Homo sapiens: one gene and its partners. The protein of the gene in region 5 purifies or fractionates together with the protein of the main gene of each other region. This does not show direct contact. Each region holds a gene or a part of one and is shown on either strand. Other genes may lie near its edges. The genes, in order: NKAP, TNRC6C, SIRT4, PTPRK, ECH1, ELAVL2 and TXNDC5.

What was found.
Region 1: the proteins of ECH1 (region 5) and NKAP purify together in Homo sapiens (co-immunoprecipitation; one large-scale study listed by IntAct). This does not show direct contact.
Region 2: the proteins of ECH1 (region 5) and TNRC6C purify together in Homo sapiens (co-immunoprecipitation; one large-scale study listed by IntAct). This does not show direct contact.
Region 3: the proteins of ECH1 (region 5) and SIRT4 purify together in Homo sapiens (co-immunoprecipitation; one large-scale study listed by IntAct). This does not show direct contact.
Region 4: the proteins of ECH1 (region 5) and PTPRK fractionate together in Homo sapiens (co-fractionation; one large-scale study listed by BioGRID). This does not show direct contact.
Region 6: the proteins of ECH1 (region 5) and ELAVL2 purify together in Homo sapiens (co-immunoprecipitation; one large-scale study listed by IntAct). This does not show direct contact.
Region 7: the proteins of ECH1 (region 5) and TXNDC5 purify together in Homo sapiens (co-immunoprecipitation; one large-scale study listed by IntAct). This does not show direct contact.

Annotation. Positions count from the first base shown.
Region 1 is NC_000023.11:119,930,252-119,933,751, forward strand, and holds part of NKAP (NF-kappa-B-activating protein), read right to left. Parts: intron 1,966-3,500; coding exon 1,856-1,965; intron 1,761-1,855; coding exon 1,685-1,760; intron 1-1,684. UniProt on the Homo sapiens protein: Acts as a transcriptional repressor. Plays a role as a transcriptional corepressor of the Notch-mediated signaling required for T-cell development. Also involved in the TNF and IL-1 induced NF-kappa-B activation.
Region 2 is NC_000017.11:78,091,203-78,094,702, reverse strand, and holds part of TNRC6C (trinucleotide repeat-containing gene 6C protein), read right to left. Parts: intron 3,264-3,500; coding exon 3,096-3,263; intron 1,771-3,095; coding exon 1,579-1,770; intron 1,084-1,578; coding exon 940-1,083; intron 1-939. UniProt on the Homo sapiens protein: Plays a role in RNA-mediated gene silencing by micro-RNAs (miRNAs). Required for miRNA-dependent translational repression of complementary mRNAs by argonaute family proteins.
Region 3 is NC_000012.12:120,308,821-120,312,320, forward strand, and holds part of SIRT4 (NAD-dependent protein lipoamidase sirtuin-4, mitochondrial), read left to right. Parts: intron 1-3,500. UniProt on the Homo sapiens protein: Acts as a NAD-dependent protein lipoamidase, biotinylase, deacetylase and ADP-ribosyl transferase. Catalyzes more efficiently removal of lipoyl- and biotinyl- than acetyl-lysine modifications.
Region 4 is NC_000006.12:127,982,100-127,985,599, reverse strand, and holds part of PTPRK (receptor-type tyrosine-protein phosphatase kappa isoform b precursor), read left to right. Parts: intron 1-2,222; coding exon 2,223-2,358; intron 2,359-2,619; coding exon 2,620-2,769; intron 2,770-3,500. UniProt on the Homo sapiens protein: Regulation of processes involving cell contact and adhesion such as growth control, tumor invasion, and metastasis. Negative regulator of EGFR signaling pathway. Forms complexes with beta-catenin and gamma-catenin/plakoglobin.
Region 5 is NC_000019.10:38,825,295-38,828,794, forward strand, and holds part of ECH1 (delta(3,5)-Delta(2,4)-dienoyl-CoA isomerase, mitochondrial precursor), read right to left. Parts: intron 1-3,500. UniProt on the Homo sapiens protein: Isomerization of 3-trans,5-cis-dienoyl-CoA to 2-trans,4-trans-dienoyl-CoA.
Region 6 is NC_000009.12:23,819,741-23,823,240, forward strand, and holds part of ELAVL2 (ELAV-like protein 2), read right to left. Parts: intron 3,393-3,500; exon of another isoform or gene 3,026-3,392; intron 2,816-3,025; exon of another isoform or gene 2,623-2,815; intron 2,081-2,622; exon of another isoform or gene 1,865-2,080; intron 1,570-1,864; exon of another isoform or gene 1,487-1,569; intron 1,417-1,486; exon of another isoform or gene 1,195-1,416; intron 1-1,194.
Region 7 is NC_000006.12:7,890,289-7,893,788, reverse strand, and holds part of TXNDC5 (thioredoxin domain-containing protein 5 isoform 1 precursor), read left to right. Parts: intron 1-2,052; coding exon 2,053-2,168; intron 2,169-3,500. UniProt on the Homo sapiens protein: Protein disulfide isomerase of the endoplasmic reticulum lumen involved in the formation of disulfide bonds in proteins. Can reduce insulin disulfide bonds.

The DNA of each region.
Region 1 (3,500 bases), on a different chromosome or scaffold from region 5:
CCACATTTTCTCTCAAACAAGAGTAGGAATAACAGTGCTCAGCAGTAGTGTGCTAGGAAGCTCAATGTGAATTGCTTTATCCTAATTAGTGTATTAAACATTGCATTGCACTATGACCTATACAACTAACCCAGAAATGCAGAAATATTTTGAAAGAAAAGAACTGCTGTGAGTATAGATTCACAGTTTACAATTATGGATTAATTTATCCCTACAGGTATTGTCATTACTGGTTCTGGCTCCAGCTGATTCCCTTTCCCTTTTTCCCTTAAAAAATCCAAAGTATGCCAGGCACAGTGGCTCACGCCTACAATCTGAACACTTTGGGAGGCTGAGGCGGGAGGATCACCTGAGATCAGGAGCTTGAGAGCAGCCTGGCCAACATAGCGAAACCCCGTCTCTACTAAAAATACAAAATTAGCCGGGCATGGTGGTGCATGCTTGTAGTCCCAGCTACTCAGGAGGCTGAGGCAGGAGAATCACTTGAACCTGGGAGGCAGAGGTTGCAGTGAGCCGAGATCGTGTCACTGCACTCCAGCCTGGGCGACAGAGTAAGGCTTTGTCTCAAAAAACAAAACAAAACAAAACAAAAAAAAAAAACAAAGTAGGCTGGGTGCAGTGGCTGACGCCTGTAATCTCAGCATTTTTGGAGGTTGAGGCGGGCAGATCACTTGAGATCAGGAGTTCGAGACCATACTGGCCAACATGGCGAAACCCCAGCTCTACTAAAAATACAAAAATTAGTCCGGGCGTGGCGGCAGGCGCCTGTAATCCTGGCTACTTGGGAGGCTGAGGCAGGAGAATCACTTGAATCTGGGAGGTGGAGGTTGCAGTGAGCCAAGATCATGCCACTGCACTCCAGCCTGGGCAACAGAGTGAAACTCAATCACACCACTGTGCTTCAGCCTGGGAGACAGAGTGAGACTCCATCTCAAAAAAACAAAACAAAACAAACAAAAAAAAAATTCTAGACCAGGTGCGGTGGCTCACGCCTGTAATCCCAGCACTTTGGGAGGCTGAGGCAGGTGGATCATGAGGTCAGGAATTTGAGACCAGCCTGACCAACATGGTAAAACCGTATCTCTACTGAAAATACAAAAAAAAATTAGCTGAGTGTGGTGGCGCGTGCCTGTAATCCCAGTTACTCAGGAGGCTGAGGCAGGAGAATCGCTTGAACCTGGGAGGCAGAGGTTGCAGTGAGCCAAGATCACGCCACTAAACTCCAGCCTGGGCAACAGAGCGAGACTCCGTCTCACAAAAAGAAAAAAAAATTCTGCTGGTAAAAAAAGAAAAAAGAGAAAAAAAGGAATAAAAAATTCTGTGAGGATCAAAGAGAAACAGAAATCACACCTACTTGTGGAGGGGAAGTATTGGGAATCAGCATATGCATCTCCTTTTGAAAAGGGCTTCGAAGGATAGTAAGGATTTTAACAGGAAGAAACTGGCGATAGGGAAGAAAACAGAGGGCAGGGAAAAGAAGGGAAGGCATACTGGATGAAGAAATAAGCTGAACATGGCATAAAAGTTGCAAAGTGCACATTAAGCCCAGGGAATATTTAGTAGTCCAGCTCAGCTGGAACCTGGAGTAGAAATAAGGGAATAGAGTCAGATAAGCTTGGCAAGGTAAGTTAGAACCAGACTTTTTGGTAGGTACTTTAGATATTATAAACACACTGCTGCTTACTTCAAAGGTTTATCATCTTGAGAGGTAAGTGTTTTTGGAGCCTCTGGGCCAATTAAATCTGATGGTTCTTCAGCCTCTGCATGAAAGATATTAAGAAACACATTCACATTCTGACTAATTGGTTACTTTAATGTTTCATCTGTTCTGAGTTAGTCTATCAGAAGAACCTACTTGTTCGATCCTTCCAGGGATTTTCCAGAAACTCTTCTTGGGATTCTTTAGAGCTTGAATCACTGGACTCTTTTCTGCTCTTCTTAGACCTCTTTTTCTTATATTTCTTCCTATAGGGATTTTAATTTGATACAAATTCACTTAATCTTCCTATGTTAGAGGGCATCTTAATTTTTCTTTTCTTTTTAAATTTTGAACTGGTGACTATACATCTTAATTTTTCAAGGCAAAGAAAGGTGACAATAAAATGATCTGAATTCCCAGCTTATTCAAACTTACAAGATAATTTTACTTAAAAAAATCTGCTTCTAACTGAACCTGGGAAACAGAGCAAGACCCCGTCTCTATTAAAAAAAAAAAAAAGTAGCTGGGTGTGATGGCACACATCTGTAGTCTAAGCTATTCAGGAGGCTGAGGCGGGAGGATCACTTGAGCCCAGGAGTTCGAGGCTGCAATGAGCTATGATTAGCCCACTGCACTCCAGTCTGGGCAACAGAGCGAGACACTGCCTCTTAAGAATTTTTTTAAAAAGTATTCTAACTTATTTAACCAAATCATCTTTTGCTATAAAAATTATCACTAAAGGAGGCTGGGTGTAGTGTTTCACCCCTGTAATCCCAGCACATTGGAAGACTGAGGCGGGTGGGTCACTTGAGCCCAGGGGTTAGAAACTAGCCCTGGGCAACATGACGAAACCGTGTCTCTACAAAAAATACAAAAATTAGCCAGGTGTGGTGGCACACGCCTGTAGTCCCAGGTATGGGGAAAGTGGGGGCAGAGGTGGGAGGATGGCTTGATCCTGGAAGGTTGAGGTTGTAGTGAGCTGTGATCGTGCCACTGCATTCCAGCCTGGGTGACAGGGTGAGACACGGTCTCAAAAAAAAAAAAATTCACTAAAGGGAACAATGAAATACAGTTCTGATGTTGTAGAAAGACAACAGAAATAAAACAGCCTAAAAAGTCCCAACAATTTGAACATTATGAATAATTTTATGTGTAATGGATTAAAATATGTCAAATATGTTTAAATCCTTGGGTTAATAATACTTTTTAAAAATCCAATTCATTATTTGAAAAGTCATTAAAACAAAAAAAATCAAGCAATTATCCTGCTCTTACAATATAAACTATATTTCAGGGTATCTAAATAGTTGATGAGGGTAAGTTTCTCTTATAGAATCATTCTGCCTAATAAATGAAGGATAAAGCCAGGATTAGACTATCACCATTTTACAACCCCTAATGAAATAATGGATCGAGATAATGACCATCAATGGCTGTTAATATGACAAAAAGTGACAACCAGACATTATTTGCCTCCTGACAGTAAACAGCACCACTTATGAAGTATTCTTGCCCCAACTCAAATCTGAGCCTTCTCAGGCCTCTAGACCTATTAATCTATTGGAAATACAGAGGACAGAACATGCCAAAGAATACCATAAGAATACGGTCACTGCAATTTAGGGACATTATTTGGATCCTGATTGGAATAAACTACAGAAAAAACTGCTGAGAATAGAGGAATTATTATTAAATGTTTTAGGCACAATAATAGCATTCTGGTTATGGGTTTTTGTTTTTTTTTTAAATATAGAGACAGGATCTCGCTATGTTGCCCAGGCTGGTATTGAACTCCTGGGCT
Region 2 (3,500 bases), on a different chromosome or scaffold from region 5:
TTTGGGAGGCCAAAGCAGGCGGATCACTTGAGGTCAGGAGTTCGAGATCAGCCTGGCAAACATGGTGAAACCCCATCTCTACTAAAAATAGAAAAAATTAGCTGGGTGTGGTGGTGCACGCCTGTAGTCCCAGCTAATCGGGAGGCTGAGGCATGAGAATCACTTGAGCCTGCGAGGCGGAGGTTGCAGTGAGCCAAGATCACGCCACTATACTCCAGCCTGGGCAAGAGAGCGAGAATCTGTCTCAAAAAAAAAAAAAAAAGAAACAAAAGAAGCAAACACAAAACACATGGCTCCAATGAGTCATATTTCAAGTGGGAAATTCAATGTTTTGGGAACTATCTAGGTGGCCTTATTAGTGATAGTACCTATGGCAATCTAGCTCTTCCTTCCACAAAATAGCATGCTGTGATAAAACTTTATCAGAGATGGCACTTCTATGATAAGACATTACTTATCAATAAATCCAGCAGCATGGGCGACACCTGAGGTCAGGAGTTCGAGACCAGCCTGGCCAACATGGCAAAACCCTGTCTCTACTAAAAATACAAAAATTAGCTTGGTATGGTGGCACACATGCCTGTAATTCCAGCTACTTGGGAGGCTGAGGCAGGAGAGTCGCTTGAACCCAGAAGGTGGAGATTGCAGAGAGCTGAGATCATGCCACTGCACTCCATCCTGGGCGACAGAGTGAGACTTCATCGCAAAAAAAAAAAAAAAGTAATAATAATAAAAAATCCAGCAGAAACTCAAATTGATTTCCATTTCTCCATAAGCACTACCTGCTGTCTTTTCATGCTGCTTCAGGTGACTAGAAAAGGTGCCCGCCAACTGTGCCTTGTATCATCCCTGCCTCACAGCCCAACCTGTCACCCCTGACATCTCCAAATGGGTCTAGAGAGACCGTCCATGCAGAGGCAGGAAGAGCAGCACCCTCACCTCCACTCTTGAGGAGGTAGCGGTTGACATCCTGGATGGTGGTGTTGATGGTAGGCCCAGTGGGGACACTGCCAGGAGTGACGTCAGGGTCATTCTCAGGGTCAATATTCTGCAGTCCTTTCCATGGAACTCCCGGATGGAATTCTGTTTAAGAAACCAAAATGAGAAGCCACAGATCAGAACACCGGCACATTGATTCACGAAATTTTAAAAGATGTTTTGTCCTGTTTGTAGAAATTTTTATAATCTGCTAATTAAATTAGAGGTACACCTTATACTCTCTTTCATTAAAGCAATCAATCCTTTGGAACAAACTAGAACCAGGTATCACAGCTATCATATTAAGCTAGTTTTCACACAGGGTTGGAATAGTTTTACCGGATAGTGTGCAGTGTGCTTCCTCCCTGCCACCCCTTCCACTCCTCATGCTGAACTAAGGGTTTACAGAAAAATGCCTGATGCTAACCATACCCAAAATTGATCTGACAAATGGATTTCCAAGGAAAATGCCAAAGCTCTGGGCTTAACGCTTCCAGATCCTTAGCTCAGATTCTGGGTCCTCTCAGCCTAATCACTCTCTGCAGGCTTGGAGCACATTCTGACCTGCTGCTGTTGCACAGAAGTGTTGCATGGTCTTACCTGGGGGCCAGTTGATGCTAGAGCCATTTGAGATTTTATCACTGTCAGATTTGGCACGTGACCAGCTATGGGGAACAGCTACGGGAGGACTGGCTGGTGACTCACTGTTCTGGATTAAATCGTACCGGCCATAGGAGTCATCAATGGAGGACTTACCTGGAGGCCCAATGCTTAGACCTCCAGGGATAGCACCTATGGGGACAATAGGAAACAAAGAAGCGAGTGAATACTCTCCAGTTGAGAGACACCAGAAGATACCCTAAGCCTCCCTATGTACCTTCTGTTCTAGGTCCAATGCCTTGCCCTATTCAGTTACATGAATTGTAAGACTTGGTCTGTCTAGGATTCTGTAAGAATCAATGACTTTATTTATTTATTTATTTATTTTTTTGAGACAACTTCTCACTCTGTGGCCCAGGCTGGAGTGTAGTGATGTGATCAGGGCTCAACCTCCTGGGCTCAAGCGATCCTCCCACCTTGGCCTCCCAAGTAGCTGGAACTACAGGTGTGAGCCACCATGCCTGGCCAGTGACTGTTTCAGTTAGCTACAATTTCAGCCCTGAAAGATTGAAACCCTTGAAGAACAATTTCAGTTTGTCCAGTAAGAAGTCTTTACAAAATACATATCCATACCATGGGAAGCTGCCCTTAATAAATCTTTTTGGGGACAACTTATGAGTCTTTGTGATTAGCTATCAAATTTGCTGTTATCTCTTCCCTCCTTTTAGTCTGAAACCCTCACTACGGAAGAACACAGTGGATGTTAAAAATTCATACAGAACCAAACCAACCAGCTACAGGCAGCAGAGCCCTCCTGCTAAGAAAGGTGCCAGCAGTGTGTGATGATTTTCCGTAAGTTAACCATGAGACATAGTTTCCTTTTTCTTTTTAGAATGCTTCCTATCAAGAGAGAACTACGTAACCTACTGAATTTCCTTTGCTGTTTATTCTACCAGGAAGTTCAGAGTTAAATTTAATGCTTGAGAGTGAGATTACCTCCTATGGTTATCATTTTTGCTTCCACCTTACTCGTGTGTCCATCAGTAAAGAGTTCCCGATGGGGACACCAGTTTGGAGTAAGACAGACTGCTTGGATGGAGGGGAATAACCAACAGAAATGCACCCTAGTATTTACAGCTGCAGTTCCCATACATACTGTATATTTGATTTTCTATTTATGTTTTACCATTTTATTGAAAACATTTCAGCAGACTCAAGTTTTTGTTGATGAATATAGATACATAAAAAAAGTACACAGGCTATGACCTAGATTCTTTGCTGCTCTGGGGTTTTCAAATTATTTCTAAGTTTGTAGCTAAGATCTAATGGTTGGGTTTTAAGAAGTTTGATCAGTGACTAGCTGAGATCTTATATGCACTATAATGGAATGGGTTATTTTAAATCCAACTTTCAGTGCTCAATTCTTAGAAAAGTATAGAATGGCCATGCTATACAACAGGACGATCGATTAATAAGCCAGCAGTGATCCCACCACAGGCATCCTAGCTCAGACGTACCATGCTTGCTAGGGTTCTGCTCCAGGGGGGAAGCGGCACTGGGCAAGTTATCCATGGAGTTGGGGTGCGTCCACTGGGGGAGGCGTGACTGGGACTGGGATGGGTCCTTCACCGACAAGCCACCGGTCATGTCCATGCTGTTGACATTCATGTTTGGGTTCAGTCCAGCTAAAGAGAGAGATGCGGTTAGGATTCGCCTGCTCCTCTAAATGACTTCATTCTAAAGCTCTCCTATAGAAGCTATTTCAGTCTTCGCTTACAGCAAATTTTTTTTTTTTTTTGAGACGGAGTCTTGCTCTTGATGCCCAGGCTGGAGTGCAATGGCACAATCTTGGCTCATTGCAACCTCCGCCTCCCAGGTTCAAGCGATTCTCCTGCCTCAGCCTCCCAAGTAGCTGGGATACA
Region 3 (3,500 bases), on a different chromosome or scaffold from region 5:
TAGACTAAGGTGGTATCCAGGGAATTTGAGTTAATGATGCTTATGGATTCATTAAAACAATTTTTTCCGCCGGGCGTGGTGGCTCATGCCTGTCATCTCAGCACTTTGGGATGCCGAAGCGGGTGGATAACCTGAGGTCGGGAGTCAAGACCAGCCTGACCAACATGGAGAAACCCTGTCACTACTAAAAGTACAAGAACAACAAAAAATTAGCCGGGCATGGTGGCACATGCCTGTAATCCCAGCTACTCGGGAGGCTGAGGCAGGAGAATCGCTTGAACCTGGGAGGCGGAGGTTGCGGTGAGCCAAGACTGTTGTGCCATTGCCCTCCAGCCTGGGCGACAAGAGTGAAACTCTGTCTCAAAAAAAACTCACAATTTTTTTCATGAAGAAAATCTGTTCTTTTAATAATGAAAATTTCAAACTTCACAAAAGTAAAGAGAATTGTATAATGAATTCTCATATACCATCACCCAGATTCCAAGGTTTTATCAAGATTTTGTCATGTCTACTTTATCCATTCTGTCTCTTCTTAAGCATTTTAAAACAATCCAGGACTTCTTGACATTTCACAGGGGCCTTTTTTTCTTTTCTTTTTTTTTTTTTTTTGAGACAGAGTCTCACTCTGTCGCCTAGGCTGGAGAGCAGTGGTGAGATCTTGGCTCACTGCAACCTCCACCTCCCGGGTTCAACCGATTCTCCTGCCTCAGCCTCCTGAGTAGCTGGGATTACAGGCATGCACCACCATGCCCGGCTAATTTTTGTATTTTTGGTAGAGACTGGGTTTCACCGTGTTGGGCCAGGCTGGTCTCAAACTCCTGACCTCAGGTGATCTGCCTGCCTTGGCCTCCCAAAGTGCTGGGATTACAGGCATGAGCCACTGTGCCCGCTTTCTTTTTTTTTTTTTTTTTTTGAGATGAAGTCTTGCTCTGTCACCTAGGCTGGAGTACAATGGCATGATCTTGGCTCACTGTAACCTCTACATCCTGGGTTCAAGCAATTCTCCTGTCTCAACCTCCTGAGTAGCTGGAATTACAGGTGTGCACCACCACACCCGGCTAATTTTTTTGTATTTTTGTAGAGACAGGGTATCACCATGTTGGCCAGGCGGGTCTCAAACTCCTGACCTCAACTGATCCACCCATCTTGGCCTCCCAAATTGCTGGGATTACAGGTGTGAGTCACCGTGCCCGGCCTGGCCTTTTTTTCTTTTTTAGACAGGGTCTGGTTCTGACACCCAGGCTAGAGTGCAATGGTGCCATCATAACTCCCTGTAACCTAGAACTCCTGGGTAATTAGAACTCCAGCTAATTAAAAAATTTTTTTTGGCTAGGCGTGGTGGCTCACGTCTGTAGTCTCAGCACTTTGGGAGGCCGAGGTGGGCAGATCACAAAAATTAGCTGGGCGTGGTGGCAGGCGCCTGTAATCCCAGCTGCTCGGGAGGCTGAGGCAGGAGAATCGCTTAAGCCCAGGAGGCGGAGGTTGCAGTGAGCCGAGATCGCGCCATTGCACTCCAGCCTGGGCGACAGAGCAAGACCCCGTCTCAAAAAACAAAGACAAGCCAAAAAAATTTTTTTTGTAGAGAGAGCGTCTTGCTGTCTACCCAGACTGGTCTGGAACTCCTGAGCTCAAGCGATTCTCTTGCTTTACGCTCCCAAAGTGCTGGGATTACAAGGTGTGAGCCACCATGCCTGGCCACAGGGGTTCTTTTAAGAGAAGAAAATCAACATAATCTGATGGCTGACTAGAACTAAAAGGAGAAAAATGAGGCTGGTTGTGGTGGCTCACACCTGTAGTCCCAGCACTTTGGAAGACTAAGGCAGGAGGATTGCTTGAGCCTAGGAGTTCGAGGCTGCAGTGAGCTATGATCATGCCACTGCACTCCAGGTAAGAGCCACCACGCCTGGCCAAGACCCTGTCTCTTTTTTTTTTTTGAGACGGAGTCTCGCTCGTTGCCCAGGCTGGAGTGCAGTGGTGCTATCTCGGCTCACTGCAAGCTCCGCCTCCCGGGTTCACGCCATTCTCCTGCCTCAGCCTCCCGAGTAGCTGGGACTACAGGCGCCCGCCACCACGGCCGGCTAATTTTTTGTATTTTTAGTAGAGATGGGGTTTCACCGTGTTAGCCAGGATGGTCTCGATCTCCTGACCTCGTGATCCGCCCGCCTCGGCCTCCCAAAGTGTTGGGATTACAGGCGTGAGCCACCACGCCCAGCCTGACCCTGTCTCTTAAAAAAAAAAAAAAAAAAAAAAAAAATAGGCCGGGCGCAGTGGCTCATGCCTGTAATCCCAGCATTTTGGGAGGCCAAGGCGGGCAGACCACCTGAGGTCAAGAGTTCGAGACCAGCCTCAACATGGAGAAACCCCGTCTCTACTAAAAATACAAAATTAGCCGGGCGTGGTGGTGCATGCCTGTAATCCCAGCTACTCGGGAGGCTGAGGCAGGAGAATTGCTTGAACCTGGGAGGCAGAGGTTGCGGTGAGCCAAGATCGCGCCATTGCACTCCAGCCTGGGCAACAAGAGTGAAACTCCGTCTCAAAAAAATAAAAAATAAAATAAAAAAATAAAAACAGACACAAAGTGCTCTCCCTCACTGGCTCAAGCTCTGGTGATTGGAGAGGTGAGAAGGGGGGCCAGGTGCAGTGGCTCACACCTGTAATCCCAGCACTTTGGGAGGCCAAGGCAGGCGGATCACCTGAGGTCGGGAGTTTGAGACCAGCCTTACCAACATGGAGAAACCCCGTCTCTACTAAAAATACAAAAAAAATTAGTCGGGTGTGGTAGAGCCTGCCTGTAATCCCGGCTACTCAGGAGGCTGAGGCAGGAGAATCGCTTGAGACCAGGAGGTGGAGGTTGCGGTGAGCCAAGATCATGCCATTGCACTCCAACCTGGGCAATGAGAGTGAAACTTGCTCTCAAAAAAAAAAAAAAAAAAAAAAAAAAAAAGAGGTGAGAAGAGAACCAGGAGACACTGTGTCCTGGAAACCAAGAAGGAGAAGCATTTTAGAAGGAATGGTAATAGACAGTGGCAAATTCAGCAGATGAGCAAGGGAAAGTATAGAGGGAAAAACGCAGGTTTGGGCATTAAGGAAATCAGCAGGCAAGGCATTTGCAGTCATGTTAAGGATAAAAGTGAGCTATAGCAGAAGGTTAGGAAGGAGTGTATAGGAAGGAAATTGATGGGCTGGGCGCAGTGGCTCACACCTGTAATCCCAGCACTTTGGGAGGCCAAGGAGGGAGGATCACTTGAGGCCAGGAGTTTGAGACCAGCCTGGGCGACACAGTGAAACACCGTCTCTACCAAAACTACAAAAATTAGCTGGGCGAGATGGCGCGTGTTTGTAGTGCAGTCCCTGCCACTCAGGAGGATGAGGTGGGAGGATAACCTGAGCCCAGGAGGTTGAGGCTGCAGTGAGCTGAGATCGTGCCACTGCATTCCAGCCTGGGCAACAGCCAGACCCTGTCTCCAAAAATAAAAAAAATAAAATAGAAAGTATGGCTA
Region 4 (3,500 bases), on a different chromosome or scaffold from region 5:
GATAAAGTAAAACAGCAATAAAATAAAAGTTGGCTGTAAGTAGTCTATAAAACAGGAACTTAAGAAATACATACATTCATCCTAATGCGTGTAGTGTTATCCACAATTTAAAGTATAGAAACTCTGCCTTTTAATGGCAACATCTGTGTTTTTTGTTTTTATCACTTTTGCAAATCCCATATTGTATAGAATGCTAGGTTGAAATAGACATTTCTTGCCAATCTAGAAAATTCCCAATAGAATTCCAGCTTTAAAACTAAATTTCAGACATACAGAGTTACTAAATGGCCTAAATTGCAAGGATTTGTGCTGCAAAACAGCTATTTAAAAATTTTTTTTAAAGAATTCACATTAGAGGACCTTGAAAACTGCATCAGTGAGATTCAGCAAATATATGCCAAAAAACACGAGCATTATATCCAGACTTTCTTCTGATTAGAAACTTCTCTTAAAACAAGCATTTAGAGATACTAAAAGCAAATTACATGGCCTCATTTTGAGGTGTGACCAGAAAAATAAGTACTGAATCTGAAAAGCGTTTCCTAAATGATGCTGCACACCATTCTCATACGCTCTTCCCTCCAAGCTACATAATAGGTTGTACCTAAGCATTTTTTGCTTTCTGAAAATCCAACCTATTCAGGATTTAAATAACCATGTATAAAAGAGGGGAAAAAAAGCAGAGAATGAAGTAAAGGTAAAACGTCCCATAGGATCAGATACTATGTACCCTGAAAACAAAAAAAACTTCCTTTCAATCCTCCTCATGAAATCTGATGTACTCTTAAATTACATTCCTGTCTCCAACTCTGGGAACAGTGATTGAGAAGATGGTAGGGGACAAAGATAAATAGAGATAGCCACAATATCTTTTGCTTAAATTTCTAAAAGAACAGTGAGTTTAAGAGAAGTGACCAAATCTGAATAACAAGGAAATAATGTTACTAGCCTATCTAAGCACTTAGAAAATGAGATAAATAGGTTTTCAACTTAAGAATTTCTTGATTTATCAGAGAGGTTTACTTTCTTATGAATTGCTTGCTTCAGAAATGCTCCAAGATTCTCAGATACTCTCTTGAAACAGAAGTGTCATTTTCCACCTACACTGAAGCATCTCTGGACTACAAAGTGAATTCCCCACTCCCCGCAAAAAATCCTTATTTTGTTTTCCCCATTGACTTCTATATATAAAATTGGAGAAACATTCCCCAGCTGCAAAATAATCACAGTATATTACAATTAAAGGACACAAAATATGGTGAGATAGAGGAATACATTTTAGTGTTCTGTACCACTGTAGGATGAGTCTGGTAAATGATAATGTTTAGTTTGAGAGAGCTAGAAGGAAGATACTGAATGTTCACAACATAAATGATACATGTTTGAGAGGACGCATATGCCAATCACCCTTTTCTGATCACTCTACATTATGTGTATTAAAATATCACTATGTACCCAAGAATATATACATTATTATTTGCCAATTAAAGACTAAAATATAATTTTTTAAAAGTATTTTTAAAAATTAACTTTAGAATTAAATACAGTAAGATAGCGGCTAGCCTTTTGATTTGCTGGGAATCATATTCTACACCTAATAATTCATTTTCATTTCTCTTCAGATCATGATTCAAATAGTCTTTACACTGTTACTCTCCTCCCCTTTGATAACCGTCATTCTCTTGCCCACCCCCACCATTTGCATTTCCTGTGAAGCGTGGCTCCTCAGATTTCCCGTTTAAAGTTTTGGGAATTAATTTTCTTTTGCCTTGGTATTTACAAGAGGTGAAGACAGTGAGTGAGCCAACATTCTCACATTGTTGCCAGAGGACACACAACTAGATGAATCTAAAAATATTCAATCTTGAGTTAAATTTTGAAGCGTGAATCTGCCACTTGATCAATTCTATGAACTTGAAATTATGTGTATTAAATTTACATAAAATGAAAATTGTGAGAGAGGTGTGGAACTTAAACAGTGTTATTTTCAATTTGAAAATAATTTAGAACTCTTGTTCCAATCTTTAGTTTATACCAAAGCAGATACTCTGCATGAAGCTATTTGTACATTAATAAGCTTTTACACAGCAGGGACAAGTGCTGTGCCTTGCAGTTTGTTAAATCAATTTGATTCTACCTATCTGACAGTGGAAAAAGTCCTTATTTAAGGTTATGAAGACTAACATGCTTCTTACAATTCATTAAATTTAATTGTTTTTCAGTGCTGGTGCTGGACGAACTGGCTGCTACATTGTGATTGACATCATGCTAGACATGGCTGAAAGAGAGGGTGTTGTTGATATTTACAATTGTGTCAAAGCCTTAAGATCTCGGCGTATTAATATGGTCCAGACAGAGGTATGTAGATTTACCTGTAGTGGACTTTTTTTTATTTTTTATTTTTTTTGCAAACAAAGAGTAGATGTCTCTCATATATACTCTACTCAACCGAAAGAGATGTTTTTCATGTGTAATCAATATTAGCTGAGTCATATAGAAAAATATTGGTGTTTTAATTCATATTTCCATATAGAGAAAATTTTCTGTATTTCCTAACTTTGATGACAGAAAAGTGATACTAAAACTAGTACAAAATTTTCTTTTTCATTCTTTTGGTAGGAACAGTACATTTTTATTCATGATGCCATTTTAGAAGCCTGCTTATGTGGAGAAACTGCCATACCTGTCTGTGAATTTAAAGCTGCATATTTTGATATGATTAGAATAGACTCCCAGACTAACTCTTCACATCTCAAGGATGAATTTCAGGTATTAACTATTTCTAAAACCTCTTTTGTGACTTACTACAATTTGTTCTGGGCGCTAGGAATCCTTTCAAGGAAGGTCTTTCAAGTCAAATTTATAACCTTTGATCCTGTTTTAAATACAATACGTATCTCTTTCATTATACATATTATATAGTCACTTTTCTATTGATGAATTTATATCTACTATATCCAAAATGACAAATAAGTTCAGACTTAGGGAAGAGCAAAGGGGAAAGGTATCATAAAAGTCAAAAATTAGGCCAGGCGCAGTGGCTCATGCCTGCAATCCCAGCACTTTGGGAGGCCGAGGCGGGTGGATCACGAGGTCAGGAGATCGAGACCATCCTGGCTAACACGGTGAAACCCCGTCTCTACTAAAAAGACAAAAAAAATTAGCCAGGCATGGTGGCGGGTGCCTGTAGTCCCAGCTACTCGGGAGGCTGAGGCAGGAGAATGGCGTGAACCTGGCAGGCGGAGCTTGCAGTGAGCCGAGATTGCACCACTGCACTCCAGCATGGGCAACAGAGCGAGACTCCGTCTCAGAAAAAAAAAAGAAATAATAACAAGTCAAAATGAGTGGTGATTTGTGTGTATTTAGTGTGTATTTATAGCCTTTTTTTCATGCAGTCATACAGATTTTGACCTGGGTCACTCACAATGTGATGAGATCAAGCACATTAATTATAACTGAGTCTGGGTTCAGTGGCAGCTCACACCTATAATCCTAGCACT
Region 5 (3,500 bases):
CTGTGTTCTAGAAGGACTAAGGAGAATTAGAAAAAGCCCATGAATTATTCAATGATGTCCACCATAACTCAGGGAAAGGAAGAAAATCCTTCTGCCTTCCTCGAGCAGCTATAGGAGGCCTTAAGAAAATATACTCCCCGGTCACCCGAATCACTCAAGGGTCAATTGATTCTAAAAGATAAGTTTATTATCCAATCAGCCGCAGATATCAGGAGAAAGCTCCAAAAGCAAGCCCTGGGCCCTGAACAAAATTTGGAGGCATTATCAAAACCTGGCAACCTCAGTGTTCTATAATAGGGACCAAGAGGAACAGGCCCAAAAGGAAAAGTGAGATTGGAGAAAGGCCGCAGCCTTAGTTATGGCCCTCAGACTAACAAACCTTAGTGGTTCAGAGAGGACAGATAGTAGAGGCCAATCACCCGGTAGGGCTTGTTATCATGCGGTTTACTAGGACACTTTAAAAAAGATTGTCCAATGAGAAACAAGCTGCCCCCTCGTCCATGTCCACTATGCCGAGGCAATCACTGGAAGGTGCACTGCCCCAGCGGACGAAGGTTCCCTAGGTCAGAAGCCCCCAACCAGATGATCCAACAACAGGACAGAGGGTGCCCGGGGCAAGCGCCAGCTCATGTCATCACCCTCACTGAGCCCCGGGTACGTTTAACCATTGAGGGCCAGGAAACTGACTTCCTCCTGGACACTGGCGCGGCCTTCTCAGTGTTAATCTCCTGTCCTGGACGACTGTCCTCAAGGTCTGTTACCATCCGATGAATCCTGGGACAGCCTGTAACCAGGTATTTCTCCCACCTCTCAGTTGTAATTGGGAGACTTTGCTCTTTTCACATGCCTTTCTTATTATGCCTGAAAGTTCCACACCCTTATTAGGCAGGGACATATTAGCCAAGGCTGGAGCTATTATCTACATCAATATGGGGAACAAGTTACCCATTTGTTGTCCCCCTACTTGTGGAGGGAATCAACCCTGAAGTCTGGGCATTGGAAGGACAATTTGGAAGGGCAAAAAATGCCCGCCCATTACAAATCAGGTTAAAAGATCCCACTGCTTTTCCTTATCAAAGGCAATATCCCTTAAAGCCTGAAGCTCATAAACGATTACAGAATATTGTTAAACATTTAAAAGCTCCAGGCTTAGTAAGGAAATGCAGCAGTCCCTACAACACCCCAATTCTAGGAGTACAAAAACTAAATGGTCAGTGGAGACTAGTGCAAGATCTTAGACTCATCAATGAGGCAGTAATTTCTCTATATCCAGCTGTAACCAACACCTATACCCTGCTCTCTCAAATAACAGAGGCAGCAGAATGGTTCACAGTTCTAGACCTCAAGGATGCCTTCTTCTGTATTCCCCTACACTCTGACTCCCAGTTTCTCTTTGCCTTTGAGGATCCCACAGACCACACGTCCCAAATTATGTGGACGGTCTTGCCCCAAGGGTTTAGGGATAGGCCTCATCTGTTTGGTCAGGCACTGGCCCAAGATCTAGGCCACTTCTCAAGTCCAGGCACTCTGGTCCTTCAATATATGGATGATTTACTTTTGGCTCCCAGTTCAGAAGCCTCGAGCCAGCAGGCTACTCTAGATCTCTTGAACTTTCTCGCTAATCAAGGGTACAAGGTGTCTAGGTCAAAGGCCCAGCTTTGCCTACAGCAGGTCAAATATCTAGGCCTAATCTTAGCCAGAGGGACCAGGGCCCTCAGCAAGGATGGAGAGGGAGGACAGGGAGGAGAGGGAGAAGGAGGGGAAGGAGGGGAAGGAGGAAGGGAGGAGAGGGAGGGAGGGGAAGGAGGAAGGGAGGAGAGGGAGGGAGGGGAGGGAGAAAGGGGAGGGAAAGAAAGAAAGGGACCTGGGAATATGTTAATGGACAAAACAGAAAGAAATAGTTTACTGTCTGTCTTCCCCACTGAGTTGGGAACGCCATGACAACAGGGCCTGGGACTGTCCTAGTCAAGACTGGGTTCCCAGCACCAGGCTCTGGGCCCTGTGCAGAAATCAGTGTATGAAATATTTTGCTTCTGGTTCAGTCCTAAAGGGCCAACCCTCCCACGGACAACTACATACGCTGGCTGGACAAGAAACAAACAATTATCTGAAGGCACTGGGCAGATTCTGGAGGGAGTGACCACTTAGGAGAGTGGCAGAACACTCTCTCGGTGTTTTTGAAAATGGTTTTGAAAACTTTCAGCCTGAGGGCAGACTGAAATTGTGCTTGAAGAGCCACAGGATAGAGTCCAAGGTGACCAAAGCTGCCGGGAAGTGAGGGGGGATATTCCAAAGAGGGGAGAGCCAGAGCGAGGAGTCCCGAATTCTGTGTATCAACTCTGCCCTAATCTCTTGCTGGGAGATGTATGTTTTTGTTGTTGTTTTTGTTTTGAGATGGGTTCTTGCACTGTCACCCAGGCTGGGTGCAGTGGCACGACCACAGCTCACTGCAGTTTTGACCTCCCTGGTTCGAGCCATCCTCCCACCTCAGCCTCCAGAGTAGCTGGGAGTGTGGTCATTCATCACACCCAGCTAATTTTTGTTAGAGACAAGGTCTCAGTGTGTTGCCCTGGCTGAAGATTAGTTTTTAAATCTTTTGCTGGGGGTGCATGTATGGTCTGTAAATCAGCAAGAAGCCAGGCACAGTGGTTCACGCTTGTAGTCCCAGCACATTGGGAGGCCGAGTCAGGAGGATCGCTTGAGTTCAAGAGTTGAAGACCAGACTGGGCAACATAGCAAGACCTCATCTCTACAAAAAAATAAAAATAAAAACAGAAAAACCAAAAAAACTAATTCCAACTAAGCTACCAAAACACGAAACTCAACACTCTTTGGAACTATATGATAGAATCCAGAGTATCCACATCTTATTCCTATATCCCAATATCCAAGAAACAATCCAAACTAACTCAAAATACAAAGAAACAGGAAAGTGAAGCCGTTTTCTTTTTTTTGAGACAGAGTCTCGCTCTTGTCACCAAGGCTGGAGTGCAATGGCGTGATGTAGGCTCACTGCAACCTCTGCCTCCTGGGTTCAAGCGATTCTCCTGCCTCAGGCTCTCCAGCAGCTGGGATTACAGGCATGCACCACCACGCCGGGAAAATTTTTGTATTTTTAGTACAGACGGGGTTTCACCATGTTGGCCAGGCTAGTCTTGAACTCCTGACCTCAAGTGATCCACCCACCTCAGCTTCCCAAAGTGCTGGGATTACAGGCATGAGCCACTGAGCCCAGCCTGCCATTTCCAAGCGAAAAGATGATAAGGAGACTGACCCCAAGATGACCCAGATGTTGAGATTAGAAGATAAGGAGTTTTTGTTTTGTTTTTATTTTGTTTTTAGAGGGAGTCTCGCTATGTCACCCAGGCTGGAGTGCAGTGGCGCCATCTCGGCTCACTGCAACCTCTGCCTCCCAGGTTCACGCCATTCTCCTGCCTCAGCCTCCCGAGTAGCTGGGACTAAAGGTGCCCGCCACCATGCCTGGCTAATATTCTTTTTTT
Region 6 (3,500 bases), on a different chromosome or scaffold from region 5:
CTCTCTCAAAAAGGAAAATTACAAAGGAGGAATCACAGAAAATTTAATGTAACATGTTTCTTCATATTCTAATTTTTCCTACCCCATTCTGGCCTTTATCTTCCAGATGTTTTCTTCCTCTTCTTTCTCTCCCCATAGTTTGCAAGCGAACTTCCCGTAAGTATATCCTCCCCACAACCTTAAGTGTTGTTACCTTAGCATCCCTACAAACCTCCTATAAAGAAGGCCCCTACCACAAATGCAGTAACATTCGGGTCCACTCAGCAATACAGTCACCATTTATATATACCCAAAGGTTACTAAGACAAGGTAGATGCAGGACAGCTTTTCCACCCGCTCACCAAAATGGAAACTCCAGGTCAGCTTCCACAAGAAATGGGAAATTCAAGCGACTCTGGCGAAACGATTCTTGAGAAAACTCTTCAAGGGCAACAAAACAATATTTCAAACAAACAGATTTTACTTGAGGGAATGGGGACATTACACAGCAATTGATATTCGAATGGTTTTAAATGGACTGATTCGCCGTAAGTTTTGAGGCTGAGCTAAATTTTTATGAAGAATTATTAGGAATAGGGCCACTAGAAAATTAAGTTTTAAAAGCGCTTTTGTCCTTGCCGAAGGTATTACATTTTGGCACTTCTAAGAACCGTTCTTTGAGGGAGGGAATAAAGGAGAGTGGACAACTCGTAGCAAATCCTTTTCCCATGTTTTCAGAAAATGTAGAGACGATAGGACTTGAAAATCTTTGTCATAAAGATGGTCTTTAAAAATGCACACAATTCTAAATGACCATCTGGGCAGCTACAACTGCATGCTCATAGCTCGCATCTAGAGGCATGGTTTTACGCTCTGGCCCTGAAGGATAACAAGGAGGCTTTTAAGGAAATGCCGTGAGAAAGACTGCTGGCTAAGCATTGTCACGGCCACTGGAGGAGCACCTGCCAGTGAACCGACGCTGGCTCCCCCAGTCTCACCAGTGCACGCACACTAGTCCGTGCACCCCGGCCGCCGCTGGCAGGCCCTACCAGCCAAGCTGGAGGAGCAGCTGCCGCAACCACGGCAAGCGAACTGAAATCCCAGAGCCGGCCTCGCCCGGCAGAGCGCCCGCGCTTCCCGCGCAGCGCACGCCTCGCGCGCAAACCCGAGATGTGACCGCGAGCTGCGACCTCGCGCGGCTGCGACGGGCCTCACCTAACGCGCACGAGGGGATCATCATTGCTCCTGCCCTGGGCGCCCGCGGCCCTACACCACCTCCGCACACAACGCGGCCGGTGTTAAGTCTCCAAACGCCCCGAGAGCTCCAAGGACCGCGCGCGCGAAGGCGCCGTAGCAAGTGGGCACACACCAGACACCACCCCGGCGTGTTCCGCGGGAGAAGCCAGTGCACACATCCTCCCGCAAGGCGGGGTTGCCAGTGCAACACAGGAATCCTGCCCTTTTTCTAGAAAAGCCCCCTCCCCCACTTTCCCTCCAATACACTCACCTGCGTCTCAACAGTTTCCTTCTTGCGCTACACGCGGCCGCACCCGGGCACGTCCACGCCCGTGCACGCTGCCAGGCGCGACTGTCCCCGCTCGGCTCCCGCCGCCCCCAACCTGCTTGTGCCCACGGGAGGGGCGGTGCCACCTCCCGAGGCGCCCAATTCTCTCTACTCCCGCCGCAACGGGCTGAGCTCTAGGAACTTCGCGGGCACAACCTCCGCCGCCCCCACCAGTGTTCCCGCCCAGAGTTCGGACTAGGGCGCACCACCCCTACCCTGCTAGACGCAGCGGGGGCGCGCACAGACCTTAGCCTCGGCGTCCAAAATGGACCAGGGGCAAGGCGCGGACGCCGTCCCCGCCCCCACGCCCCCAGCACTTGCCTGCTGTGACTCGAAGCTGCAGCTACTACGGCTCGTGCCGCTGGCCGTCAGCACTGCCGCGGAGGAGTCGCTCGGGGCGAGCTCCGCGGAGAGGCGGTGGCGGCGGCGGCGGCGGGAAAGGGGACTGGAAGCCGGCGGAACCCCCGCCCCACCCGCGCCGCGCCGCGCCGCGCCGGCAACCGCCCTCCTCACCCGGCCGGCTACTGCCTCAGTGACGCCCAGGCGCCGCGGTCCCGCCGTTTGTAGCGGGGCGGGAAGGAGGGGCTTGCTTGGAAGAGCGCCAGGAGGCGGGGCCGGCGGCGAGTTCGCGGCGCCGCGGCCGCCGCCGGCGCGTGCCCTGCCCGACCGCCCTTCGGGTCCGTGCCGGCAGGGAGATGCCGGGCTTCAGCAGCTCAGCTCCGTCCCTCCGGACTTCCGAGTCTCACCAGGCTTCCCCGACAAGGTTTCTCTGGACTCGGTGGAGAGCGTTGAGCGCCCAGAGGAGGCTGATTCCAGGTGCAAGTTTGCAAATCCCGAGGCCCGGGGCGCTAACGGGGAGTCAGAGCAGCTAACGTGGGGGTTACTTTATGTGTTCATAAATGTATTTATAAATATATATAAGTATACACACATATGTGTGTCTCTTTTAAAAATTCTCTTTTTCCCCCTACTTCGCAGCCAAGGGGTCCTGTCCCTGGACAGAAAATAAAGGCTTAGCCCCCTGCTGCCCCTCCCTGCCTCTCTAGAGAGAACCTGACGTTTAAATAAGCCCAGAGTACCTGTGCGGGGTGCTGTACTCTGCTTCAAACGCAAAGTAGGAAATCCTGCACTCGACTATGCAAACGCTTGCCGCTAGCCGCATCCTTCTATCGCCCCCCAACTCAAGACCCGAAATGGCCAACTCTTCACCGAGGGGGCGTCCCATCGCTGCCTTGCCTTGGCCCGCCCCTTCGCCAAGCTCAATCCCTTTTCCCCAGAAAAACCTGTGCCTGTCCTCAGACCCGGCCCCACGGCTGGAAGTCAAAACCCACCCCGGAGCCACGCGGCTGGAGCACGTTTTTACACCTGCTCGGCCGCTTAATTACGAGAGCACCTGTAGTTGGGATTTTTTTCATTGCAAAGGCATCGATTTTAGCCCTTCTCCTAAAATACTACATTTAAAAAATCACCTGTCATACCTACCTGAAATTGTAGGAGGTAAGAGAAAGGAACCGAGCAGTGGGCGACCCAGTCGCCGCAAGAACGTGACCGAGGTTACAGCTTCAAGGGCATGATGCAGGTTTGATGCAGCAAGGTCCGCTAAGGGCGTCCAGCGCTCCCCGCCCCCATGCGACGGGCGGAGCGGGGTTGGGGGGAAGGGAGGGGACTCGTCTAACCCAGGGCGGGTGTGGGAGAGGCAAATTTGCCCTCTTGGGCGAAGTCTAATCAGCATAGTGAAGTAGGGGGCTCAACCAAGGTCAAAAGCGAGATAGGCCATCCCTTAATTTGTGCGACCCAGTCTGGGGACACCGGATACAGCTAACTGATTCTATATCAGCATTTCCGTGTCACCCCAAATCCGATTTGCAATTAAATGACCTTAATTGACTTTGTGTGGGTTCCTGGGAAAACTGCTCAAAGCGCCTGCGCCTCTTTGACCTCTCAGTAAATAGTTAAT
Region 7 (3,500 bases), on a different chromosome or scaffold from region 5:
TGCCTGCTGGGAGTCAGAGCCCCTCCCCCACCACACTTACTGTCCACAGTAACTTATCGTGAGGCCTTCAGCCTTTTCCCACTTTTGCTAAAAGTTATTTCATCCATACCAGCGCCCTGACGGCAGAACTCTAGCATGCTTTCCGCTACGGGAATGCATTTTCAGCTGGGATTGTCTTGGGCTCTGAGCAGGGTGTGTTTCCCAAATCACCTGTTACGGACCGACTCCGGCAGGACAGACCGACTCCGGCAGGCCTAGCCAGCGCCTCCCTAAGTGGGTCACTGCCACACAGCTGTGTCGTGTAGGTACCATGGTGGCTTCCTGCCCTTGCTGGCTTCCCATCAGTACTCTGATTAGGTTCCCAGAGAGCCTGTCTCCACCTTACAGTGCAGGATCTACTGTGCACCTGCACATGGTTTCAGCTTTGCACATTTTTTAATGGAAGTTGTTAACTTTTAAAGGAAGTTTTTCACCATTTTCTTCAAGTGCATTGTTGCTGTGCTGATGAGACAGTAGCTGTGAGCCTTAGTGTGGCAGAGTCCTGCTCAGACGCCAGGCCACATGCCACTGGTTAGTTCTCTCCCCGGCCACAGCCTGCTTTCAGTTTGGTATCAGCCCAATGTCAGGGTAGAACAGCTAAACACCTTCTGTGTCCAAATAATGATGCTGTGAGGGTTTGTTTGTTTTTTTCCCCGTAGCCAAGGGGGTGATGTTTCATTTTTTAAACTTTTTTTTATGATAAAATATAATACAGATCGAGAAAACAAATGTAGGGCTTAATGAATTTTTATAGCGTGGTCACACTGTAACTACTGTCCAGTTCAAGAAATAAAACTGCCAGCTTCCCGTGTCCCATGCAGGGCACAGCCCGCCCTCCCTTCTCCAAGAAGGCACTTGCCTGACATTTGTGGAAACCACTTGTATTAGTCCGTTTTCACTGCTGATGAATACACACCCGAGACTGGGCAATTTACAAAGGAAAGAGGTTTAATGGAGAACTCACAGTTCCACGTGGCTGGCGAAGCCTCACAATCATGGTGGAAGGCAAGGAGGAGCAAGTCACATCTTATATGGATATCAGCAGGCAAAAAGAGCTTGTGTAGGGAAACTCCCGTTTTTAAAACCATCAGATCTCATGAGACTTATTCACTATCACGAGACCAGCATGGGAAAGACCTGTCCCCGTGACTCAGTTACCTCCTACCTGGTCCCTCCCACGACATGTGGGAATTCAAGATGAGATTTGGGTGGGGACACAGCCAAACCATATCAACTCCTTTATGTGCACTGAAGTGCACATTCCTGAGCACTATAGTTCTATATGTGTATGTGTTTATATATCTTTTAAGGCTCTTTTAACCTGCATGTTCTCCAGACATCTCTTTATCTTTCTTGCTGAAGACATAGGTGGTTTGACCTGTAGAGCTCCCCGTGGTCCAGACTTTGCTAATTGTGTCCCCGTAGTGTGGTCTACATGTTTCCCTGATTTCTCTGTTTCCTGGAAATTGGTAGTTGGGTCTGGGGACAAAATCAGTTTCAGTGTGATGTTTTTTGGGGGCACAAGAAGACCTCATAGCTGGTGGGGGCACAGAACGTCCAGTTGTCTCTCTTTGGGATGTGGTCGACCATGACAGGCAGAGCCTGGGTCCGTCCATTCCTTAGGGCTGCCAAGTGCCGAGGCTCATTCAAGCGTCCCTTCATTTTTTAACCAAGAGAAACTCACCCTCATTTATCACCTGGTTATTCAGCGGTACAGTGCATATAGGAGAGGTGGGAGAAATGCCTGATTCTTTCCTTTTATTACAGTTTTCCAAATAATGAGTTGATTGCTGATTGTCCATCAAAGATGACAAATTTGGTTTTGAGTATTGTTATGAAGTCATGAACAGAAACACATTTGATGGAGTCCCTTTGTACCAATTAAAGTGCTCATGCCGAACTAAGATTTGCTAAGCAGGACAAAGATCTGATTCTTCAATTAACTCTCTAGTGAGGTCTGACATAAATTACAGTTCCTCTTTCCCCCGTCTCTGCCTTGGCTCTCCACTCCAGGCGACCACTTTATCAAGTTCTTCGCTCCGTGGTGTGGTCACTGCAAAGCCCTGGCTCCAACCTGGGAGCAGCTGGCTCTGGGCCTTGAACATTCCGAAACTGTCAAGATTGGCAAGGTGAGTGAAAGCCCTTATTAAACTGGAAATGGACTGCTTTGGGCTGGATTAATTAGCAGAGTGGCCCATTATTCATTCCGTGTGCAAAGTCGCAAACTTGATTTATTAATTCCATTTAGTGTGCCACTTGATAATTCATTTCACCTTCACAGATGGCAGTCTGATTTTGAGTTTTGCTGGCTTTTCCACAGCCTAGAGATAAATTATGGCCTCGGCTGCTTTGTTTATTTTGAAGAGATGGCCAAATCTGAATTGGCAGCCCCAGAGCCCGTTCTGCAAAGAGATGGGGTAGAGCCTTGTAGAATGTTCACTGGACGAACTTGGAGACCGTCCACGTTCGACCTCACCCAAGAGCTCTCTCTAAAAGGACCCTGGCTCTGTGCTCCCCCAAGCACGCAGAAGACCCTCCCTCAGTTTGCACTGTGCCTGGGATTCTTTCCAGCATTTCCTACTTTATACAGAGAAGCCAAGAGTGGTGTCTGACAACTTCTGTGTAACTGGATTTTCTGGAAATATCCAGTGTAGCTCCAGGGACATCACTTTTATTCTTCTACACTTTCCAGCACCCACCAGACACCATGCATAGATTTCCTTTCTTAAAAATCTCATTTTTCTACCTTGCCATGGGGCTGATTTGTATCCAAAAGTAATGCTGCGTGTCTAGGACTGAATGATGGTTAACAGGATGATCTACTTGGGATGGTGAGATGGTCAAAAGCATAAACTTGGGGGTTGGGTAGACCTGGCTGGCTGACCTTGGGAAAAACCTCTCCACGCCTCGGTCTCCCCCTTTGCAAAACTGAGCTAAGATCTACTGTGTGGTGTCTGGGCAGATGAAAGTACACTGCTTAGTGTGATGCTTAGCATGGGGCAGATGCTTGGTAAATTGTAATCACTTTTGTTGTCAGTTAAATGGATATTTCACTGTTGCCTCTTAAACGCTTACGATAATATATACTAATTATACATGTTATTATCAGTTTATATTTATTGAACATTTCGGGGAAGTAATTATAAAATAATCTTGTCTACTGTCTTACCCCATTCCTTGTATCCTTACTTAATTATTGTATGAAATTTTATGGGAGATTCTTTTAGGTTTATATCCATAGAGGATCCTAGCAGACCTAGGCGTGAGCAGACACAAGCCCAGGTGACCACGCTGAAGCCCTTCATCCCTGGCACATGTGGCTGGGTTACACTGGACCCTTAAAAATGCTTGTCCTCTCCCGACCTTGGGCTGAGGCCTCTTGTACTTCAGTTCCGCACCTTAGCTGCTCTCTGACGGGTCTTAGGTGTTGAAATAGTATTTTTACCCCCGTTTGCTGACAT